3 separate regions of the Homo sapiens genome follow, and all the other regions are reported to be linked to region 1. Evidence: microRNA targets listed by miRTarBase, many of them from high-throughput screens and not tested one by one. Region 1 holds a microRNA gene; each other region holds the end of a gene's coding sequence.

Evidence for each region. The annotated mature microRNA hsa-miR-6852-3p reads UGUCCUCUGUUCCUCAG and lies in region 1 at 1,492-1,508, opposite strand. An mRNA with a match to its seed (bases 2 to 7 or 8) in the 3' UTR can be bound and repressed. Matches are read on the target gene's strand: a 7mer-m8 pairs with bases 2 to 8, a 7mer-A1 pairs with bases 2 to 7 and ends in A, and an 8mer does both.
Region 2: miRTarBase lists GMPR as a target of hsa-miR-6852-3p. The part of its 3' UTR that is shown has no 7-base or 8-base seed match.
Region 3: miRTarBase lists B3GNT6 as a target of hsa-miR-6852-3p. The part of its 3' UTR that is shown has no 7-base or 8-base seed match.

What each region holds. Positions count from the first base shown.
Region 1 is chr9:35,709,193-35,712,534 of GRCh38, forward strand. It overlaps MIR6852 (microRNA 6852), which reads right to left and starts at 1,549; the gene lies at 1,484-1,549. It overlaps TLN1 (talin 1), which reads right to left. Exons shown (of 57, transcript NM_006289.4): 28 at 2,813-2,932; 29 at 2,403-2,600; 30 at 2,063-2,202; 31 at 1,797-1,890; 32 at 1,605-1,694; 33 at 1,369-1,491. RefSeq lists enhancers at 1,589-2,788, 2,880-2,929.
Region 2 is chr6:16,294,736-16,297,735 of GRCh38, reverse strand. It overlaps GMPR (guanosine monophosphate reductase), which reads right to left. Exons shown (of 9, transcript NM_006877.4): 9 at 2,187-2,730. The coding sequence ends at 2,550. Among named protein-coding and RNA genes, the nearest start is that of GMPR, 58 kb to the right of the region's middle.
Region 3 is chr11:77,040,322-77,043,663 of GRCh38, forward strand. B3GNT6 (UDP-GlcNAc:betaGal beta-1,3-N-acetylglucosaminyltransferase 6) reads left to right here. Exons shown (of 2, transcript NM_138706.5): 2 at 1-1,652. The coding sequence ends at 385. Among named protein-coding and RNA genes, the nearest start is that of ACER3-AS1, 6.3 kb to the left of the region's middle.

The DNA.
Region 1 (3,342 bases):
GCTGAGGTAGGAGAATCACTTGAACCCGGGAGGCGGAGGTTGCAGTGAGCCGAGATTATGCCTCTGCACTCCAGCCTGGCGACAGAGCGAGACTCCGTCTCAAAAAACAAACAAACAAAAAACCAAAAAAACAAAAAAACAAAATCAAACAAGCCATCTAGAGCAAGGCGCCTATTCTGACAGGGCACAGGGAGGTGGTGGAGATGGAGGGCTAGGATGGTAGGCTTTCAGGGAAAATAGTCTGAAGTGAACTCTTATGATGCCAGTTTGTTTTAAGGATTCATATACTAAAGCAAAATACTTTACAGCTAATAGGTAGTTTTATACTTGATAATGTGGGAAAAGGCAAAGTTAAGTGATAACTCAAGTAACTGGAAATTTTGTCACTAGTACTATTTTAAGAAAGTAGTGATTGGCCGGGCGCGGTGGCTCACGCCTGTAATCCCAGCACTTTGGGAGGTCGAGACGGGCGGATCACGAGGTCAGGAGATCGAGACCATCCTGGCTAACACGGTGAAACCCCGTCTCTACTAAAAATACAAAAATTAGCCGGGCATGGTGGCGCGCGCCTGTAGTCCCAGCTACACGGGAGGCTGAGGCAGGAGAATGGCGTGAACCCGGGAGGCGGAGCTTGCAGTGAGTCTAGATCGCGCCACTGCACTCCAGCCTGGGCGACAGAGCGAAACTCGGTCTCAAAAAAAAAAAAAAAAAAAAAAAAAAAAGAAAGTAGTGATTACAGGCCAGGCGCGGTGGCTCACGCCTGTAATTCCAGCACTTTGGGAGGCCGAGGCAGGTGGATCACGAGTCAGGATATCGAGACCATCCTGGCTAACATGGTGAAACCCTGTCTTTACTAAAAAAAAAAAAAAAAATACAAAAAATTAGCCGGGTGTGGTGGTGAGCGCCTGTAGTCCCAGCTACTTGGAAGGCTGAGGCAGGAGACTAGCGTGAACCCGGGAGGCGGAGCTTGCAGTGAGCCTAGATCACGCCATTGCACTTCAGCCTGGGCGACAGAGCGAAACGCTGTCTCAAAAAAAAAAAAAAAAAAAAAGAAAGTAGTAATAACATGAAAAAATAGTTTGTATAAGCTAATTAGTATATTTTGAGAAAGCCAGCTGGAAAAGGCCTCACGGTTGGGCAGTGTAATCCTAACCAAAGTACCAGGGTTCAGGAATTACAGAAATCAGAACTGCTGGTGTTCAGTAATTGCTGACAAGTGTCTCCACTTCAGGAGGAGGACAACCCAGATTCCATAGAGTTGGCTTTGCAAACATAAACTTCTTGATTTATCTACAGGTATGTCAGGCTGAGAGAAAATGGGGTAAAGAAAGTAGGGGCCATTCAAAGAACCCATCTCAGGAAAATAACCTGTGCAGCTGCCTCGGTGAAGCCACAAAGTGCCTTTGAGGCTGTGGAAATGGCATCTCCAAACTCTGGCAGGTTTCCGTTCTTGGCATTTTGGGAGATGCCAGTCATGGCCTCGCCCAGCACCTGAGGAACAGAGGACATCAGGGGAGTCAGAGCATGTCCTCAGAACCCCAGGGCAGCATCTGGTTAGCTCCATCCTACTGCCCTCTCTCCTCCGAGTTCCTGGCTGTGCTGACCTTTGAGTTCTCCATTACACTGTCCAGGCAACCAAAGTAGGACATGTCATTGATGGGCTGGACTGGGTTCTCCAGGAGTTCCCGGACCGTCTGTGTAGGGGGAGGGCAAAGTGAGATCCAAGACACCTCCCTCAGGCCCAAAACCAGAACACTTCCCTCAACCTCAATGCCATCAGCCTGCCATGTGTCTACCTCCAATTCCCGCAGGGCGTTATCACACTCCTTCTGGCCGGGTGCCTGCTGGGTGCACATAGTGATGAGCTGATTGATGCTGTCAGTTACTGCCCTGGGAGTGACAGAAAGTTGAGTGAAAAGGTGAATAGGTCATCATTCCTGGGTCCTATGTAAGTATTTATCTTTTGCCTATAACCATTCCTAAGCCAAGAAGCTCTCATGAACTGCCTGCTCCCCAGTCTCTCTCACACAGTCCAGGGCTGGGCTTCTCAGCAACTACTTACCTGGCAGCTGCAGCCAGCTGACTCTTGAGGTTAGGGGCAGCAGGGTCCGTGGACAGGGCCTTGGCAGCCAGAAGAAGTTTGCTTGAAGACATGGAGATGCCCTTCAAGTTGGACACAACTTGGGCTCGGTCCTCCTGGCTCTGTTGAAGGTGACAAGGTCAATGCATTGTCCTGTCCTTTCTTATCTGTCTCTAAAAGGGATCTTCTTTCCCAGACACTCAAGTAGTGCTAGAGACTGGGGAGGGAAGGGAGCCAGGAGCAAGTCAGGACTGGTCACTCAACTGCCTCCTATCTAACCCTTAGTGGGAACCATTCAACCAGACCCTCTGCCTCTTCATACCGGAGCCTGGCCTGCCATCTCCACACCAGCTTCCAGGAAGGTGCTGAAGTCCTGTCCAAATCGGCCTGAGGCTCGAGCCAGGTCCTGAGGGGTTCCCCGAGAGGCCTGCACCAGTTCTGTGGCTGCCTGATTCAGCCCAGCAGCAGCTTCATTCAACCGGCTCTGAGCTTCTTGAAATGTCCCAGTGCTAGGAGGAAGCTGCAAGGTGAGAGGGGAAGTCAGACAGAAGAGTGGGGAATGATGCAGGGAGAAGTCTGGTAAAGGAGGGCTGAAAAGGTGGGCACATAGCCTGGGAGTAATGAAAGGGGACAGATCTGGGAAGTCAGGGTCAAAGGACAACCGAGAGGGAGGAAGGAGAGGCCTGGCATTCTTTGACTCCTACGTTCCCCCACCCCCTACCGTCCTCCTACCGAGTCACTCAGGAGTCGCTTGCTGGCATCTCCAACTGCCCTCAGGGCATTATCCACATCGCGCTGGCCAGGTAGGCAGCTGACACAGCGGTTCAGAGCCTGGGTCACTGCTTTAGCCACCTGGGGTGAGAAAGGAGACAGGGTTGCCCAAGTGAAAAGAATTTGAGAGATCGCCTCCATTCACGCGACATGGGAGATGACTAGCTCTACTGCCTCTGAAAGTGAAAAAAGAAAGGGGGCGTTGTAGGTGAACAGGCTGAGGTTAGGGTTTCAAGTGACAGTAATTAAACTTCCCCAAACTTGGTGTTTAGCTCAGCCCATGACTGAATCCAACTGAGACACTTCTACAAGACCAAGAGGGCCGGGCACAGTGGCTCACGCCTGTAATCCCAGCACTATGGGAGGCCGAGGGGGGCAGATCACGAGGTCAAGAGATCGAGACCATCCTGGCCAACATGGTGAAGCCCTGTCTCTACTAAAACAAAATTCAAAAATTAGCTGGGTGTGGTGGCGCATGCCTGTAGTCCCAG
Region 2 (3,000 bases), not on the chromosome of region 1:
AGATGGAACGGCCAGAGTGGCCCAAGGCAAATGGCGTCGAGTTCACTGGCTGTCCTCCTCCTCCCCCAGCTCTGGCACAGGAAGCCCAGTGGGTCAGCAGCAAAGCTGCATGCTTCATCTCCAGGTCCTGTGGGACACCCGGTCCAAGGGACACTCTGGTGTGGGCTCCCCCAGCCCCACTCCTATCAGAGGCAGAGATGAACCTGCTAAGGCAAACGGTGACGGAGCCTTACAAGTTCTCTTTATGGGCCAGGCGCGGTGGCTCACACCTGTAATCCCAGCACTTTGGGAGGCTGAGGTGGGTGGATCACCCGAGCCCAGGAGTTTGAGACCAGCCTGGGTAACATGGCAAAAACCCATCTCTACTAAAAACATAAACATTAGCCAGACGTGGCGGGCACCTGTAATCCCGGCTACTCTGAAGGCTGAGGCACGAGAATCACTTGAACCTGGGAGGCGGAGGTTGCAGTGAGCCGAGATTGTGCCACTGCACTCTGCCTGGGTGACAGAGCAAGACTTGGTCTCAGGAAAAAAAAAAAAAAAAAAGACATTCTCTTTCTGAAGGCTCTGCTTCAAAATGGTCCTAACGAGTTTTTGATTTTGTAACTACTCAGTTACAAGCAGCTGGAAGACCACAGAGAGCAAGGCGGGGAGCCTGCAGCCAAGCCCCATGTCTTGCTCCACGTTAAATCGCCTCTTGGCCCTCCCGTCTCCAAAGTGCAGCCCTTGTGTTTCTACAGGTGCAAGAGTTATTCTTAATGGGCCGGGCACAGTGGCTCACACCTGTAATCCTAGCACTTTGGGGAGGTTGACGCAGGTGGATGGCTTGAGCCCTGGAGTTTGAGACCAGTCTGGGCAACATGGTGAGACCCTGTCTCTATAAAAAATACAAAAATTAGCTGGGCGTGGTAGCAGGTGTCTGTAGTCCCAGCTACTTGGGAGACTGAGGTCAGAGGATCACCTGAGCCCGGGAGGTCAAGGCTGTGGTGAGCTGTGATCCTGCCACTGCACTCCAGCCTGGGCAACAGAGACCCTGTCTCAAATTAAAAAAAAAAAAAAAAAAAAAAAAAAAAAACTCTTAATGGATTTAGTAGGGGAAAGTATTACAATGGAGACAATGCTGCTGGCTGGATCTCTAAACATAATCTTAAAGGACCAACAGTGGGCCTGTATTATCCCAGAGTGTGACAGCTCTGGTTGGACCCTTCTCATGCCATCGGTCACTGTGGACAATCAGGCCATTCATTCACCCTGGCACAGCAGCACCCTGTGGATCTTCTCTACTCCAGGGTCATTGCTTGCCTTTCCAAAGAAAACTGACTTGTGTATCTGCTCTTCAGCCTTATTAAAAAGCAAAGTAAAACAACCTGATCTGCATACGCTTTCCAGGCCTGGAACTCAATACTTCAAAGTTTAGCGGCCGGTCATCACTTCTTCTGCGTTCACTGTTTAAACAAGCATCCTGGTGGACTGCTGCAGGTCAGCTGCAGAGGCCAATTCTCCAAGACAATGTCATTGTTCCCAACCCGTTAACTGACCCTTATACAGTAGTGCCATGTGGTCCTTCCGAGAAAGGATTCACTGGCACACTGAGGGAATGGCTCTAACTCATGTCTCAAACCAATGCCTTTTAGGATGCCACTGATCAAAGCTTTGGCTCTTTTTCAGTGTGACTCCACCTGCTAATTTCTTGGGAGACAACCTTCCCATAAAACATCCTGTGGAATTTCAAATTAAGACAAGTTGGGACTGAGAAGGGGGAAAAAAAAGATGGAGGAAAACAAAACGAAATGAGAAGCCAGGACAGGGACAGCTTCCTAGAGGCAACAGCAAACTGGTAGCGACAGATGACTTGTCCCTGAAAAGCACATGTAATGAAACTCGGGGAAAACACATTGGCTCAACTTTGTGAGTATCAGCTGGGAAAACAATTCATGTTCATCTGTCCAGTTAATTGCTTTTGTTCTTTTGCAGCAACCAAAAGCTAGAGGTGAGGGATGCCAGTTACTTTGACTCCGGCCTGTCCACCCTTGGCCCCCGCACTGTCCTCCTCTCCTTGCCCCTCCTAAGGTGACTTGTCTGCTAATCGCCGGGAGAGGCTTGCCATCAGCCTGTCTAGGAAGGTAGCAAAACAAATCCCAAACCATTCAACTTGACTCCTGGAAATACAAACTCCAGCAACTCCATTAAGTCTTAAGATAATAGCATTATATTAAAGTGAAACCATCTTCTTTTAAAAAAGAAAGAAAAACAAAGAAAGGGAGAGAGAAAGAGAAAAAGAGAAAGGTGCAAGTGTTGGTTTGAACAATGAGGTTATGAGTTCTGGGCAGCAGGGCTCTGATGTTGGCCCAATCGGTGCCTTGCGTCTGGGCCCCGAGAAGGCAGGCGGGAGAGCCCCGAAGCCTCCAGGCAGCAGGAGACAGAAGAGAGGACACAGCATTCCACCATTCAGGAGCAGCCAGAAGCTCTGACGGAACAGACTTGGGGGGAGATGGGAAAAGCAGGTTTGGACGCTTCCACTCGAGCCAGACGCTGCTTTGTCCCCAGGGTTAGCTGAACACGGTGTTGTGCTGCTGGGTCACCCGGATGAATGTTGCCCTCCTGCTGAGCTCCTTGAGTTTGGCGGCCCCCACGTAGGTGCACGTGGACCTCAGTCCCCCGAGAATATCCAGGATAGTGTTTTCCACATCTCCTTTGTAAGGAACTTCCACAGTCTTACCCTCAGAGGCTCTGGAAGACGATAGAAGTTTTCTTTTTATCTAGTTTCCCGCCCCACCTTAAGAGCCCAATTAGAATTACTCCCAGCTCCAGCACTTTCTGTAGCCCCCAAGGCACTCAGAAAACCAGACCCCACCCTCTGACCCCATCCCCACATTTCTACCAAGTGCCAAGATGATCACCAGCATCTCAGATGAACACATTCCTCCCGCCCAAAGGGCACGGGCTCATTGCTGGCTGCCCTGCATGTTGCGGAGAGGAAAGTCCTGGTGAGCAGCGCTT
Region 3 (3,342 bases), not on the chromosome of region 1:
CCGCGACAGCTGGAGCAAGTACTTCGTGCCGCCGCAGCTCTTCCCCGGGTCCGCTTACCCGGTGTACTGCAGCGGCGGCGGCTTCCTCCTGTCCGGCCCCACGGCCCGGGCCCTGCGCGCGGCCGCCCGCCACACCCCGCTCTTCCCCATCGACGACGCCTACATGGGCATGTGTCTGGAGCGCGCCGGCCTGGCGCCCAGCGGCCACGAGGGCATCCGACCCTTCGGCGTGCAGCTGCCTGGCGCACAGCAGTCCTCCTTCGACCCCTGCATGTACCGCGAGTTGCTGCTAGTGCACCGCTTCGCGCCCTACGAGATGCTGCTCATGTGGAAGGCGCTGCACAGCCCCGCGCTCAGCTGTGACCGGGGACACCGGGTCTCCTGAGGCCAGTTGGGCGGCTTCAGCCCCGGGCCTCCAACCATGTCCATGCTGAGAAGGCAGCTTTCCCGCTCTGGGTACCTTACGTCCTGCCCAGCTCTGTGCACCTGAACCCCAGCTGCGCACTGAAATCAGCTGGGGTGGGGGGTGTGGAAAATGCCTACATCCTGGCTCCATCTCCCGAAGTTTCGATTTGATTAGTCTGGGGTGGACCCAGACATGTTAAGTATTTTTTAAGTTCCTCCAGTGATGCGAATGTGCAGCTAGGCCTGAGGACCACTCGGCTAGACTATCTCTTCATCCTCGCAAAGCCAGCTCCACCGCCCTCTCTGCAAGAATTCCGGGCCCCTCGCTCCCACACTCGGGTCCTCTTGAGCAGTGGAGCAAGGGAGACCTGGGAGCGTGGGAGCCAGGATCAGCGCCCCCTGCCATGTGCCTACAAATGTCAGTTGTGATTTCCACTGTTTACAAGTGAGTGGAGCTGGAGCTGGGCTGACAGTATCAGGTGGATCCCGCTTCCCCCTCCCCCAAGAAGTCAGCCAACACGCAGCTGAGGCGCATGTGGTGGCCTTCTTCCCACCACTACCCCAGTACACCGTGAGGTAGAAATCTTCACCGTGCAAAGTGGAAACCAGAGGCCCGGTCAGACAGTGACTAATCCAGGGCCGTGGCATTCCCAGACAGCACACCACTGTGGTCCCCTCCACACTCACCCCAACCAAAGCTAATGGCCTAGTTGGGTCCTGCCCGCCAATAATCACCCCCACGGGTCAGAGACAGGCTCCTTGCCGGGGTCTGGGCCTCAGGCTCAGTGGGCCTTGGACAACCCAGCAGGGAGTTCCGGGGAGTCCGAAGTGGAGAAAGGCTGGTGGGAACATGGAGGCCAGTGTTGGGGAGCCTGTGGAGGCAGGTGTGTAGAATTGTGTTCGGGAGGTGGGGGATCTGAGACCGAAGTGGACAGTGGTTAAGATTGTGGGGCCGGGCGAGGTGGCTCACGCCTGTAATCCCAGCACTTTGGGAGGCTGAGGAGGTCGGATCATGAGGTCAAGAGTTCGAGACCAGCCTGGCCAATATGGTGAAACCCCGTCTCTATTGGGAGTACAAAAATTAGCCGGCCATAGTGGCTCGTGCCTGTAATCTCAGCTATTTGGGAGGCTGAGGCAGGAGAATCACTTGAACCTGGGAGGCGGAGGTTGCAGTGAGCCGAGATCGTGCCACTGCACTCCAGCCTGGGCGACAGAGCAAGACTGCATCTCAAAAAAAAAAAAAAAAAGGAGAGTTTGCAAGGGTGGGTGGGAACTTGGTGCCTGGGGCTCTGAGAACCAGGCTGTGGTCCTGACCTCCAGCAGCTGCCAGTCATCTTGGCAACATAGAAAATCAAGGAAACGGCCTAAAGGCAGGCAGAAGTGTGTGTCAGCAAGGTCCCAACTATGTAAGATGGACACGAGGGACTCACCTTCAGGGAGGAAAGAGCCGGGGCAGAACGTCAGGAGACTGGCCAAAGGTCCTTCCCTGCCTTCAGGACGAAGACTAGACTCCTCAGTCCTGCATTTCAGGCTCCTGCCACCCGCCTGCTGCTCACTGATCCCTCCCTCCCACTGTCAGCCTCCATCCAGGTGGCAGTGCCTGCGCTTTGTCAGGCTCTCTCTTGTCTCTGCATTTTGCACAAGCTCTGACCTAGTTACCGAAATGTCCTCCAACCACCTCCATCCTGCATGTCTCTTGCACCAGTTAGGACGCCTGTCGGGGAAGCTGCCAGCTGCCCACCTGAGTCGGCTGTTCCCTTCCTCCTGGGCACTCACCTAGACTCCATTTCCCAGCACTCCGTCCCCTGAAGTTAGATGTGGCCCTGTGACTAGGCCCTCATGGATGGACGGGAGTGGATGAGGATCACTGTGGCACCTGGGCCTGCTTATGCTCTCTTCCTCCTTCCCATTCGCTGGAACATGGATGGGCCTGGGACCCAGCTCTGACTTTGCAAGTGAGGACAATGCTTCAGGCCCAAGTGGAAGTTTCTCAACTACTGACATTTGGGGCAGGACGGTTCTTTGTTGTGGGGGGCAGTCCCGTGCATTGTAAAACATTCAGCAGCATCCATGTCCTCCACTCACTAGATACCAGTATCACAGCCCAAGTCATGACACCCAAAGTATCTCCAGACGTTGCCAAACATACCCTGGTGGGAAAATTCACCCTAGCAGAGAACCGCTGGCCTAGAGGAAGGCAGAGAAACGAGGATTCCTGAGTTCCTGCACGGAGCAGAGCAGCCCGGGGACCAACCTGGAATACTCAGTTCAGACTACTGAGGAAGACAAAATAAACTTTTATGCTTTTAAAAAAAATTATGGACAGAACAATATAGACAAAAACTTTTATGATTTTTCAGCTTCTGGGGTTTGTCTACTGTTACAGCAGCCTTGCCCTGCTAGTGTTTTAGTCTGTTCAGGCTGCTGTAACAAAAATACCATAAACTGGGTGTCTTACAAACATTTCTGAAAGTTCTGGAGGCTGGGAAGTCTAAGGTCAAGGTCCCAGCAGGTTTGGTGTCTGGCGAGGGCCCATTCCTCACTGCCTTCTTGCTGTGTCACTGCATGGTGGGAGGGGCAAGCAAGCTCCCACGGCCTCTTTTACAGCGGCCCAGATTCCATTGGTGAGGGTTCTGCCATCATCACATCATCACCACGTCACCTTCAGGGCTAGGATTTCAACGTAAGAATTCCGGGGGGCCGGGTGTGGTGACTCACGCCTGTAATCCCAGCACTTTGGGAGGCTGAGGCGGGCAGATCACGAGGTCAGGAGATAGAGACCATCCTGGCTAACACAGTGAAACCCCGTCTCTACTAAAAATACAAAAAAATTAACCGGGCATGGTGGCAGGCACCTGTAGTCCCAGCTACTCGGGAGGCTGAGGCAGGAGAATGGCGTGAACCTGGGAGGCGGAGCTTCCAGTGAGCCAAGATCAC